Homo sapiens: one gene and its partners. The protein of the gene in region 2 purifies or fractionates together with the protein of the main gene of each other region. This does not show direct contact. Each region holds a gene or a part of one and is shown on either strand. Other genes may lie near its edges.

The links.
Region 1: the proteins of LUZP4 (region 2) and KIAA1671 purify together in Homo sapiens (affinity purification with mass spectrometry, with the first as the bait; one large-scale study listed by BioGRID). This does not show direct contact.
Region 3: the proteins of LUZP4 (region 2) and POLDIP3 purify together in Homo sapiens (affinity purification with mass spectrometry, with the first as the bait; one large-scale study listed by BioGRID). This does not show direct contact.

The regions. Positions count from the first base shown.
Region 1 is NC_000022.11:25,025,602-25,029,249, reverse strand, and holds part of KIAA1671 (uncharacterized protein KIAA1671), read right to left. Parts: intron 3,618-3,648; 5' UTR 3,466-3,617; intron 1,306-3,465; 5' UTR 1,251-1,305; coding exon 1-1,250.
Region 2 is NC_000023.11:115,296,120-115,299,767, forward strand, and holds part of LUZP4 (leucine zipper protein 4), read left to right. Parts: intron 1-3,648. UniProt on the Homo sapiens protein: Export adapter involved in mRNA nuclear export in cancer cells. Binds and enhances the RNA-binding activity of the nuclear RNA export factor NXF1. Can restore mRNA export function in cells compromised by loss of mRNA export adapters.
Region 3 is NC_000022.11:42,612,776-42,616,523, reverse strand, and holds the start of POLDIP3 (polymerase delta-interacting protein 3), read left to right. Parts: upstream 1-1,640; 5' UTR 1,641-1,666; coding exon 1,667-1,725; intron 1,726-1,744; exon of another isoform or gene 1,745-3,748. UniProt on the Homo sapiens protein: Is involved in regulation of translation. Is preferentially associated with CBC-bound spliced mRNA-protein complexes during the pioneer round of mRNA translation. Contributes to enhanced translational efficiency of spliced over nonspliced mRNAs.

The DNA of each region.
Region 1 (3,648 bases), on a different chromosome or scaffold from region 2:
TTAACCTCAGCAAGTTCTAGGCCCCTTCCCAGCCTGGGTGAGGGGGACTCAGCAGCCTTCTCTGGCTCTGGGTCCAGCTTGGCCTTTTCTTCCCAGGGACTCTGGTCATTGCTGGGGGTGACCCCAGATGAGCCCCCCACCAGGGCTCTGGGGCTGCCCATCTCCGGCTTCGAAAGCATCTTCTCCTTCCGTTCACGGATTTTCTTGGCCACCTCCAGGAAGTCCAAATCAGGATCATGAAGAGGAGCCTCCGCCTTGACCAAACAGTCCCTGTCCAGCTTGGACGCTGCTCTGGGCCTCTCTAGCCCAGCCATATCCCCTGCTGTGGGTCCACTTCCTTCATCGGCCACCTTCCTCAGCAAGGCCTCTTTGTTCTCAAACCGGGCCGTGAGGTCCATGGACAAGGGCCTGGGCTTCCTCACCCACGTCTTCTCGGGAGGGGTGGGTGGCACTTTGCCCACTGTGGCCGCTGCGCCGGGGCCTGGCTTCTGAGGCTGAATGGACTCCGTGAAAATGGCAGACACGGGCCTTCTCTTCAGGCGAGGCCTGGGCTCCACAAGGGGGCGTGCCGTGTCCTCCACACTGCTGGCCTTTGAGGGAGGATGGTCTTGGCCTGCCTCCTCTTGGGGTACAGGTGGTTTTGTGTCCTGAGACAGGGGAGCTGACCGGGGAAGGGTCCCCGCAGGCTTCTGGGTGGGCAGGGCGGGCTTGGCAGCCACCTCAGGCCGGGAGCCGGACACACCTAGCTTGGCCTCCTCCGCCCCCTCACTAACCGCCTTCCCCAGAGCGGGGCCGCTTTTGGTGGTTTCGAAGAGAATCATGGTGCTGGAGCTGGGCCGCAGGAACACAGCCTTGTTGAAGAGGGGCGAGCTCGTCCTCGGGCCCTCCCCACTGCCCACCTCCTGCCCCACCAAGCCGGGCATCCTGTTGTCCAGATCCTTTGCTGCTGGCTCCTCAGAGAGCCCCCCAGAGGGGGAAGGTCCAGTCGAACTGGGCCGCAGAGACGGGACAGGAGATTTCACGTCCTGCTCCTTCGAGAAGGGTTTGGGGGCGAGCCTTGGCAGAGGGAGTAACCGGGCCGGGCTCCGCAGGGGGCTCTTCGCTTCCAAGATCCGGGCTGGGGGAGCCCCAGAGGCTTCGCCGGCCTGGAGGAAGTAGGTCCTCGTCAGGGTCTCCTCCTTGCCCATCTCACCCAGGCCTGGCACGGCCGTCAAGGGCGTTATGGAGCCCACCTCGACCCGCGTGGCCATGGTTATGGTTGTGGATTCATGGGGGTTAGGAACTTCAAGAATGGAGAAGCAATTGCTAAACAAACAAAACAAACAAACAAGTAAATTTGGAAAACAGTCAGTGTCTGGGTTGAAGCAGAATGGTTTAGAGAAATGGGACAGAGTCCTGAGCCCCAGATTCCATACGACAGCCCTCTGCTGACCTCACCCGGCAGGCTTGGGCCTGCCTCTCCCCGTCTCTGAGCTCTGGACGAGGGGAGTGGACTAAACGCCCATCCCTGAAGTTCGTTCCAGCTCCAAGGGTGTAGAAAAGGCATCAACACTCTGGAGGACTTTCCCCTGACAGCTAATCTAGAGGCCAGCACTTAATGGCAAAAAGCAGTGATCTCTGCTACACAGATAAGGAAACCAGCTCAGAGAGGCCAAGTAACTGGAGTCACCCAGGAAGCAAGAGGCGAAGTCAGGACTTAAAACCAGGTTTGACACCAAATTCACACCACACATGCTCCTCCCTGAATAGGCCTCAGTGGGAGCGTCCTCACATTCCCTCACTCCTGTTACCCTGTTTTCCCACTGCAGAGCCTGCCCACATCCCAGGTGATCCTAATCACAAGTGTGTGCTAAGCATCTAGCACAGAGAAGGCAAGTAACCTGCTGCAGGTCACACAGCAATGCAGCTCAGGAGTGCCTGGGAGCACAAAGCTGGTTAGTGACCTTGGAACCCATGCCCTAGGCACCAACCCCACCCAATCATCCCTTTGTCCCTTTTCTTTCCCCTCCCCCACCCTTCCAGATGCCATAAAAAGAAGCCATTCTCATTTTTCTCACTCAACCTGCTTTCATTATTTGTTTGCTTTGTGGTTCTTTTCTGTTGAACACGCATATTATGCTGACTGCCTTCATACTCTTAATAGAAAGAGAAACGCCCAACAGTGAGGTCTTCCCATGAGTGAGATCTCGAGCTATGCCACATGCTTCTTGTGTTTTATACATCTCATCCTCCTCACAACCCTATTTAGTGGGTACAATTAGGAGACCCCATTTTGTAGTAGCTTGGGGCATAAGCCTCTTGTTCACCCTGCTATGAGATCTGTTTTCGCAAAGCAGGGGACCTCCTCTCTCATTAACCCTCCAGCAACTCCAAAAGTCAAGAATGAAGGAATGATCGTTATCTCCCTCATGGAGATGAAGGGAAAGGGCCCAGAGAGGTCGCCAGACTTGCCTACGATCACCCAGCTGAAACCTAACCTCAAGTCCACCACCCACTTAGCTCTGTCTTTTTTTTTTTTTGAGACCAAGTTTCACTCTTGCTGCCCAGGCTGGAGTGCAATGGCGCGACCTTGGCTCACAGCAACTTCTGCCTCCCAGGTTCAAGCCATTCTCCTGCCTCAGCTTCCGGAGTAGCTGGGATTACAGGCATGTGCCACCACGCCCAGGTAATTTTGTGGTTTTAGTAGAGGTGGGGTTTCTCCATGTTGGCCAGGCTGGTCTCGAACTCCTGACCTCAGGGGATCCGCCCACCTCAGCCTCCCAAAGTGCTGAGATTACAGGCTTGAGCCACCACACCCAGCCTCAGCTCTGTCTTTTTAAAAATTATTTTTTATTCCTTTCTGGTCTTAAAAAGTGCCAGGTAAGTTGCTGTTCTCGATCCCCCAGGCTCTCTTCATGCCAGTGTTTTCTTCCCTGTGAAACTGCCCCCAGCCAGCCCCCACCTAGATGGACTAAAAAAGTAGAAGGTATTTTAGTTAAACACAAGCCTCTCCACTTCCCTTCCTTGGGGCCCCACACTGCTCCCCCGGCTCTGACTCACTCAGCAGCCTCCAGGAAAGAAAGGCAGACAGATTTTGATATTTTCTCTTCCTTACACGCTCGATGGTGCTAACAGATTCCATCTCCCCAAACTGGAGAACACTGTCTAGACACGGTTAGAGGTAGAATGGAGGGACAGATATGAAGAATCTGAGAATTGGAGAATTTCCATACACAAAGATCCCAACCAGAGTTCTAAGGCTCCAGAATCCCACCCAGAATCAGGGCCATTGGCCTTTTGGGAGAGCAGCTGTGACCTCTGGAAACCCTGATTGAGGATACATATGTAATAGCCAGGACATGAGACACAGAACAATGACAGGATTCAAAGGACAGAGAGAAAATTCTCTGGCAGAACTCACAGGCACTCTCCATGCCCTTGGACACTCCAGCCCTCAAGCTTGGGTCAAGCATGGGCCCCACTTACCCAAGCTGGCAGGCCCTGGGTCAGGGGGTGTGACTGCCGGGAAAAGCCAGTAGTGTCACATGTCATCATGAATGGGGCTGTCCACACACTTCCATGGCAGAAACAAGAAGGGGGAAAGAAGACTCGTCCCAGCAGGCTGAGTTTCAGCAGGTCTAAGGAGACACAGGATGACAGCCTCAGTTC
Region 2 (3,648 bases):
CAAAAATTGTGGTGTATTTTACATGTTTATAAATATAAAATAGTGGTTTCAACCCACTGTAAAATAAAATGCAATATAAGTATACTTTTCACAAGAAAATTAATTATGCAATTTAAATAAAAATGTAATTATTCATATGGCACCTCAAGCAGTGTGATCAGTTTTAAACTGTGTGAGGAATACTGTCTTTCTTCAGTCCTGACAGTTTATTTCTGAGAGTAAGTATATCAAGAATTCAAATTTAAGGCTCTTTGGTGAGGCCTGGATCAAATGTCTCTCCTTGAGAGATTGGCTAAGTGTTCTCTAGGTGGATTCAGTGGAGAATATCATTACAGAGAGCAGAATGAACAAAGCCCCGTGTCTCTGTAATGATATATTCTGAGAACTAAGGAAAAGGACATGAGAATCTGCAAAAATACTGTAGCATTAAGGACGCTTTCTTCATAACCTCATAGCCTATGTTGGAAGGGCGTTTAGACAGCTTACCCAGGTTCATAGGCATTTGCTTTCTCTTCAATATGAAGAGGCTGAGCAGCAATTTGATTTCATCTCTAAGTCGTAGCTGGTGAGATCTACCCAATTCCATTACAATCCAACAAATCAAATGGTGGTCTCTGGAACTACAAAGTCTAAGGATTAAAATTACGTATGATTTCACTTAAAGAAAAACCTTGCAACACATTCCAAGGTGTGGATAATTCAAAAACATTTTTAAAAATAAGTTTTATGCTGGGCGTGGTAGTTCACACCTATAATCCCAGGAGATGTCAGCCATTTCAAAGAAAATCAGAATCAGATTTTTTTCTTATTATTGTAATTGTTTATTATTTATTTGTAATTTTTGTGGGTATATAGTAGGTGTATATATTTATGGGGTACATGAGATGTTTTGATACAGGCATGCGTGCAATTGCAATGTGGAATAAGCACATCATGGAGATTATCCATCCTCTTAAGCATTCATCCTCTGAGTTACAGACAATCCAATTACGCTCTTTATTTTAAAACATATAGTTATTATTGACTATAGTCACCCTGTTGTGCTATCAAATAGTAGGTCTTATTCATTCTTTCTATTTATATTTTATTGTACTACCTATGTATTGAAAAGTTGTTGTAGTTATTTTTTATTGGTTCATCGTTTAGTCTTTCTACTTAGGATGAGAGTAGTTTATATACCACAGTTACAGTATTATAATATTCTGTGTTTTTCTGTGTACTTACTATTACCAGTGAGTTTTATACCTTCAGATGATGACTCATTACTCATTAATGTCTTTTCTTTCTGGTTGAAGCACTCCCTTTAGCATTTTTTGTAGGACAGGTCTGGTGTTGATGAAATCCCTCAGCTTTTGTTTGTCTGTGAAACTTTTTATTTCTTCTTCATGTTTGAAGCATATTCTCACTGGATATGCTATTCTAAGGTAAAGTTTTTCCCTTCAGCACTTTATATCAGCCCACTCTCTCCTGGCCTGTAAGGTTTCCACTGAAGGGGCTGCTGCCAGACATATTAGAGCTCTTGTTTGTTATTTGTCTCTTTTCTCTTGCTGCTTTTAGGATCCTTTCTTTATCCTTGACCTTTAGGAGTTTGATTATTAAATGCCTTGAGGTAGTCTTCTTTGGGTTAAATCTGCTTGGTGTTCTATAACCTTCTTGTACTTGGATATTGATATCTTTCTCTAGGTTTGGGAACTATTTTTTTTTTCTTTGACAGAGTGTTGCTCTGTAGCCCAGGCTGGAGAGCAGTGGCGTAATCTCGGCTCACTGCAACCTCTGCCTCCCAGGTCCCCGTTAAGCAATTCTCCTGCCTCAGCCTCCTGAGTAACTGGGATTACAGGTACATGCCACCATGCTCAGCTAATTTTTGTATTTTTAGTAGAGACGGGGTTTCACCATGTTGGCCAGGCTGGTTTTGAACTCCTGACCTTGTGATCCGCTCACCTCAGGAACTTCTCTTTTATTATCTCTTTGAATAAACTTGCTCTGTCACCCAGGCTGGAGTGCAGTGGCACTCTTGGCTCACTGCAACCTCAGCCTCCCAGGTTCAAACGATTCTCCTGCCTCAGCCTCCCAAGTAGCTGGGATTACAGGTGAGCACCACCACACACAGCTAATTTTTGTGTTTTTAGTAGAGGTGGGGTTTAACCATGTTGGCCAGGCTGTTCTCAAACTCCTGACATCAAGTGATCCACCTGCCTCGGCCTCCCAAAATGCTGGGAATACAGGCGTAAGCCACCACTCCCAACCCCTTTGAATAAACTTTCTACCCCTATCTCTTTCTCTACATCCTCTTTACAGCCAATAACTCTTAGATTTGCCCTTTTGAGGCTATTTTCTAGATCCTGTAGGTGTGTTTCATTGTTTGTTTGTTTTTTCTTTTGTCTCCTCTGATTGTATATTTTCAAATAGCCTTTCTTCAAGCTCACTAATTCTTTATTTTGCTAGATTTATTCTGCTATTAAAGGACTCTGCATTCTTCAGTATGCCAATGGCATTTTTCCAGTTCCAGAATTTCTGCTTGACACTTTTAAATCATTTCTATGTCTTTGTTACATTTATCTGATAGAATTCTGAATTCCTTCTGTCTTTGCTTGAATTTATTTGAGTTTCCTCAACACAGCTATTTGGAATTCTCTGTCTGAAAGGTCACATATCTCTGTTTTTCCAGGACTCGTCCTTAGTGCCTTATTTAGTTCATTTGGTGAGGTCATGTTTTCCTGGATGCTGTTGATACTAGTAGATGTTCTTCAGTGTCTGGGCATTGAAGGGTTAGGTATTTATTGTAGTCTTCACTGTCTGGGCTTCTTTGTACTCATCCTTTTGGGGAAGGCTTTCCAGATATTTGAAAGGACTGCAGTGTTGTGATCTAAGCAGTTTCTACTTTAGGGGACATCGCAAGCCCAGTAACGCTATGGTTCTTGCAAACTCATAGAGGTACCGCCTTGATGGTTTTGGACAGGATCTGGGAGAATTCTCTGGATCACCAGGCAGAGACTCTTGTTCTTTTCCCTTATTTTCTCCTAAACAAACAGAGTGTCTCTGTTCTGAGCCACCCAGAGCTGGGGTGGAGTGACACAAGCACCCCTGTGGCCGCCACCACTATGACTGTGCTGGGTCAGACCCGAAGCCAGCACAGCTCTGGGTTTCACTCAAGGCCTGCTGCAAATACTCCCGGCTACTGCCCAGCTTGCTCAAGGCCCTGAATCTCTACAATCAGCCAGTAGCAAAACCAGCCAGGCCTGTGTCCTTTCCTTCACGGTGGCAAGGTCCCCCAAGCCAGAGGTGTGTCCAGAAGTGACATCTGGGACTCAGGACCTAGAGTCAAAAACCTTAGAAGTCTACCTGGTGTTCTATTGTATTATGGCTGAGCTGGCACTCATACCACAAGATGCAGTCCTTCCCACTCTTCCCTTCCCTTTCCAAAGGCAGAGGAGCCTCACCCCATAGCCAGTCATCCTAGGCCAGGTAGAGTACTGTTGGACTACCATAGATGTTCCCTTGAGGCTCAGGGGCTCTTAAGTCAGCTTGGGATGAATGCTGCCTGGTCTGAGACTCACCCTTCAGAGCAGTGAGCTCCCCTCTGGCCTAGGGCAGTTCCAGAAGTGTTATCCAAGAGTCAAGTCCTGGAATCACGGATTCCAAGAGCCC
Region 3 (3,748 bases), on a different chromosome or scaffold from region 2:
ACTGGCCAGCCTGTCCTCCTCCCACCTCTTGCGCGTTCCTCCTGGCACGCCTGGAAGGGAGGAAAGGCTTAATGGTCCCGTTCTATGGGTGAGGAAAAGAGGTCTGGGAAGGAGCCCGGCGTGGTGGGGCGGGCCTGTAATCCCAGCTACTCAGGAGGCTGAGGCAGGAGGATTGCAGGATCGCTCTTACCCAGTTTCTTTCTTTCTTTCTTTTTTTTTTTTTTTTGAAACGGAGTCTTGCTCTGTCGCCTAGGCTGGAGTGCAATGGCGCGATCTCGGCTCACCGCAACCTCCGCCTCCCGAGTTCAAGCGATTCTTCTGCCTCAGGCTCCTGAGTAGGTGGGATTTCAGGCCGTGCCACCGCGCCCGGCTAATTTTTTTCTTTCTTTTTTTTTTTTTCAGTAGAGACGGGGTTTCTCCGTGTTGGCCAGGCTGGTCTCGACCTCCTGACTTCAGGTGATCCACCCGCCTCAGCCTCCCAAAGTGCTGAGATTACAGACATGAGCCACCGCTCCTGGCCTCTTACCCAGTTTCTGCACGGAGCTCCTGATGCCTGATGGCCAAGAGGACATAACCCCACCTGTTCTAAGGGCATGGAGTGTATTTTTAGAGTGATTGGACAAAATATGTGCCGAACACCTACGTCAGGTCTGGCGCATGCTGGAGGCTGGGGTTATATCAATGCAAAAGCCATTCCCTGTATTTAACACGTAAATGAATTAGTCTCTTTAACTCTCCCAACGCCCTATAAATTATTTGCTCCATTTTACATATTAAACGCTGTCACGAACTGAGCTGCTGTGTGAGGCCGGGGCCGGACTTATCTTTCTGAAGCACAGAGAAGCGGTTATACGCAGAAGTTTGGGAGAACTGGGTAAGGCCGCACACATGGAAATTGCCAGTTTCGTGGGTCCCAACGTCAATACTGTGGGCAACCTTAGACCGGCTCAAAGCGCAGCTGGGGACGGTGATGAAGTGCAGAGCGTCCACAGCCAGCGACAAGACTGCCAAGCAACTGGCAGCCTGAGTAACGGAGAAAACAACGAAAAAAACGCATTCACCACCTACCAACAAGAAACAAAAAACACGACCACCCCACAGTCAGTCTACTTTTTAGGCGTGAATAAGGTCGGGCAGATCGCAACTCCCAGGCATCCCGCAAAGTAGGCGGGTCACCTTGAGGGCGACCTTTACCCGCTCAAAAATTCGTCTCACATTAGCAGTGAGGATTCGGGCGTCACCCCGAATCGTTATTTTCCTTACTCATAAGTTTAAGGCATAAGGACGTTTTTAGTTTATTTCCTAGGTAATGAATTCTATTCTCATTAGGCGTATGATGACTATCGTAGTTGACTGTTGAGGTCATGATCCAGTTCCATTGAAGTTTGTCTCACTTGTTAATAATGTATTTTGTTGCTTTTCATTTAATTTTTTCCCTCGAGGAAAATAAATAATTCATAATGTGCCGAACTTCCGTATGCAGATGAGCAGCCAGCACCGCGAAGGCTCACGGGGAACGTCCCCGCCCCTTCCGGTTCTTGCCTGCTTTGAGCTGGCTGTCGCGAGAGTTGGTCCGCGGACGCCGGAAGTAGTTCGTCGCTCCCTAGCGGCCGAAGGGGCGGGCTCGCGGGGTCTCGACTGCTTTCGGCTTGCTCGGCGGAGCAAGATGGCGGACATCTCCCTGGACGAACTCATCAGGAAGCGCGGGGCGGCGGCGAAAGGACGGTGAGAGGCCTTTCCTTTCTTCGGGGTTTAGGGTCCTCGGCCTAGTGGAGCTCGAGGCGGGGGAGGTAGCGATCCGGGAGCGACGCGGAGGACCGGGTGCGCCCGCCCCCGACCACAGCCGCGCTCCTCATTGGCCGGCTGCCGCCGTCCCCGCCGTGGCCCCGACCGCCCGCCCACTGGCCGAGGCGCAGTCCCTCTGGCGGCCCTGGGAGGCCGACGGGGCCGCGGCGGGGACAGGGTGCCGCCTCGTGGACCTGAGGGGCTGCCCCCTGGGGCCCCCGCGTTCCGGGGTCCTGGGGTCTCGGCGGCGCAGCCTCCTTGCCTGTGTGGACTGGCATTTGGGCCCCGCTCCGTGATCTCGGCGCTGCCTGGTCTCCACCCATCTTAGAGTTGAGACAACCGAAGTTTAGTAGCGGGGAAGTGACTTGCTCCGACCGCCGAAGCTGAGGCGCAAGCCCAAATCCCCCTGCACGCGGCCCCTGTTAACACTCGCCTCTCTTTGTGCGGCGTTTTAAGTTTTCTGAGCCCTTTCATATACACGATGCCTCATTTAATCTTTTACAGTCCTGTTGTCTGCTAGCTATTCATGTTACCCACCTTTTACTGATGGGGAACTTGAGGCTGGAAGTGGTAGAGTGACTTGCCCGAGGCCACGGAGAACTGAGCGGCGGGCTGAGCGCGATTTAATTGCTGGCTGAGTTGGCCTCCTACATGGGCTTGAAAAACTGGTGTGTTGGGCAGGAGATTGGTTATTTCCTTAGGGAGAAGAAAGTGCTTGAGCTGGCTGAGGAGCCATGGAGGTGATTTGCAGTCATGTCTCCCAAACTTCCCCTAGACCCTTAAATGTTGTTAGTCATTTCAAGCCTTCGTGAGCTGAGTTCATCTGTATGAAGAAGTGAGAACTTTGCCCAATAGTTTCCCAACACACATTAAGTTTAAATGTCTTTGTAAATAGCCAGGATGTAAATATGTTAGATATTGTTTTCTCAGACATTTGTTCTCTCAGCAGATGTTTATTTTTATTTTTATGTTTTTTTTGAGACGGGGTGTTGCTCTGTCGCCCAGGCTGGAGTGCAGTGGTGCCATCTCGGCTCACTGCAACCTCCGCCTCCCCGGTTCCAGCGATTCTCCTGCCTCAGCCTCCCAAGTAGCAGGGACTACAGGTGTGCACCACCACGCCCGGCTAATTTTTGTATTTTTAGTAGAGATGGAAGTTTCACTGTGTTGGTCAGGCTGGTTTCGAACTCCTGACCTCAGGTGATCCTCCCGCCTCGGCCTCCTAAAGTGCTGGGATTACAGGCGTGAGCCACCGGCCCGGCCATTCCGCAGATGTTTATTAATACCACCCGTATGCCTGTGGTTAGGTTTTTCTCTTGATGTCTGAAATGTATCCCTCACCTCCTTCCCCATCCTGGACACTTGTATCAACTACAACTGCCACCACCACCTCATAATTCGCAGCCAGCACTTACCTGGCTTGTGGTTCGTAACGGGCACACATTAGTATTTGTTTCCTCAACTACTGACTGTGAAAGCTCTCTCAGATCTCCATCTAGTGACTGATGTGAAGCTGGTGCTGGCTCCTCTGGCCACTTCTAAGTCCATCCACGTTTTGTAGGTTCCTTTGGAAACGACAGAATGATCCACCCCAGGTTCTTCTCTCTCTGAGGTCACTCCGCCAGTTTCTGACTGCAGGTGGACTGCACTGTAGTCTATTTGATCTCTATGTTTTTGGTTTTAGTGTGTGCAGAGTTTTGTGTTGGGCAGTAGGTGGGGCTGCAGGAATGGGGGGTGGTTATGTGTGGATCCACAGGAACAGGGGCCTTGCAGCTGGATACACCTGGCACTTGCCACTGTTGGGTTCTGTTTCCCTGGCCAGGGGAGTTCTGAACTAGGCAGTTTCCTCACTTGGAATGGTGATTCCTGGTTGAGCGGGATTAAATGTGAGAAGGGTTTTTTTTGTTTGTTTTTTTGAGAGGGAGTCTCACTGTATTGCTCAGGCTGGAGTGCAGTGGCACAGCCT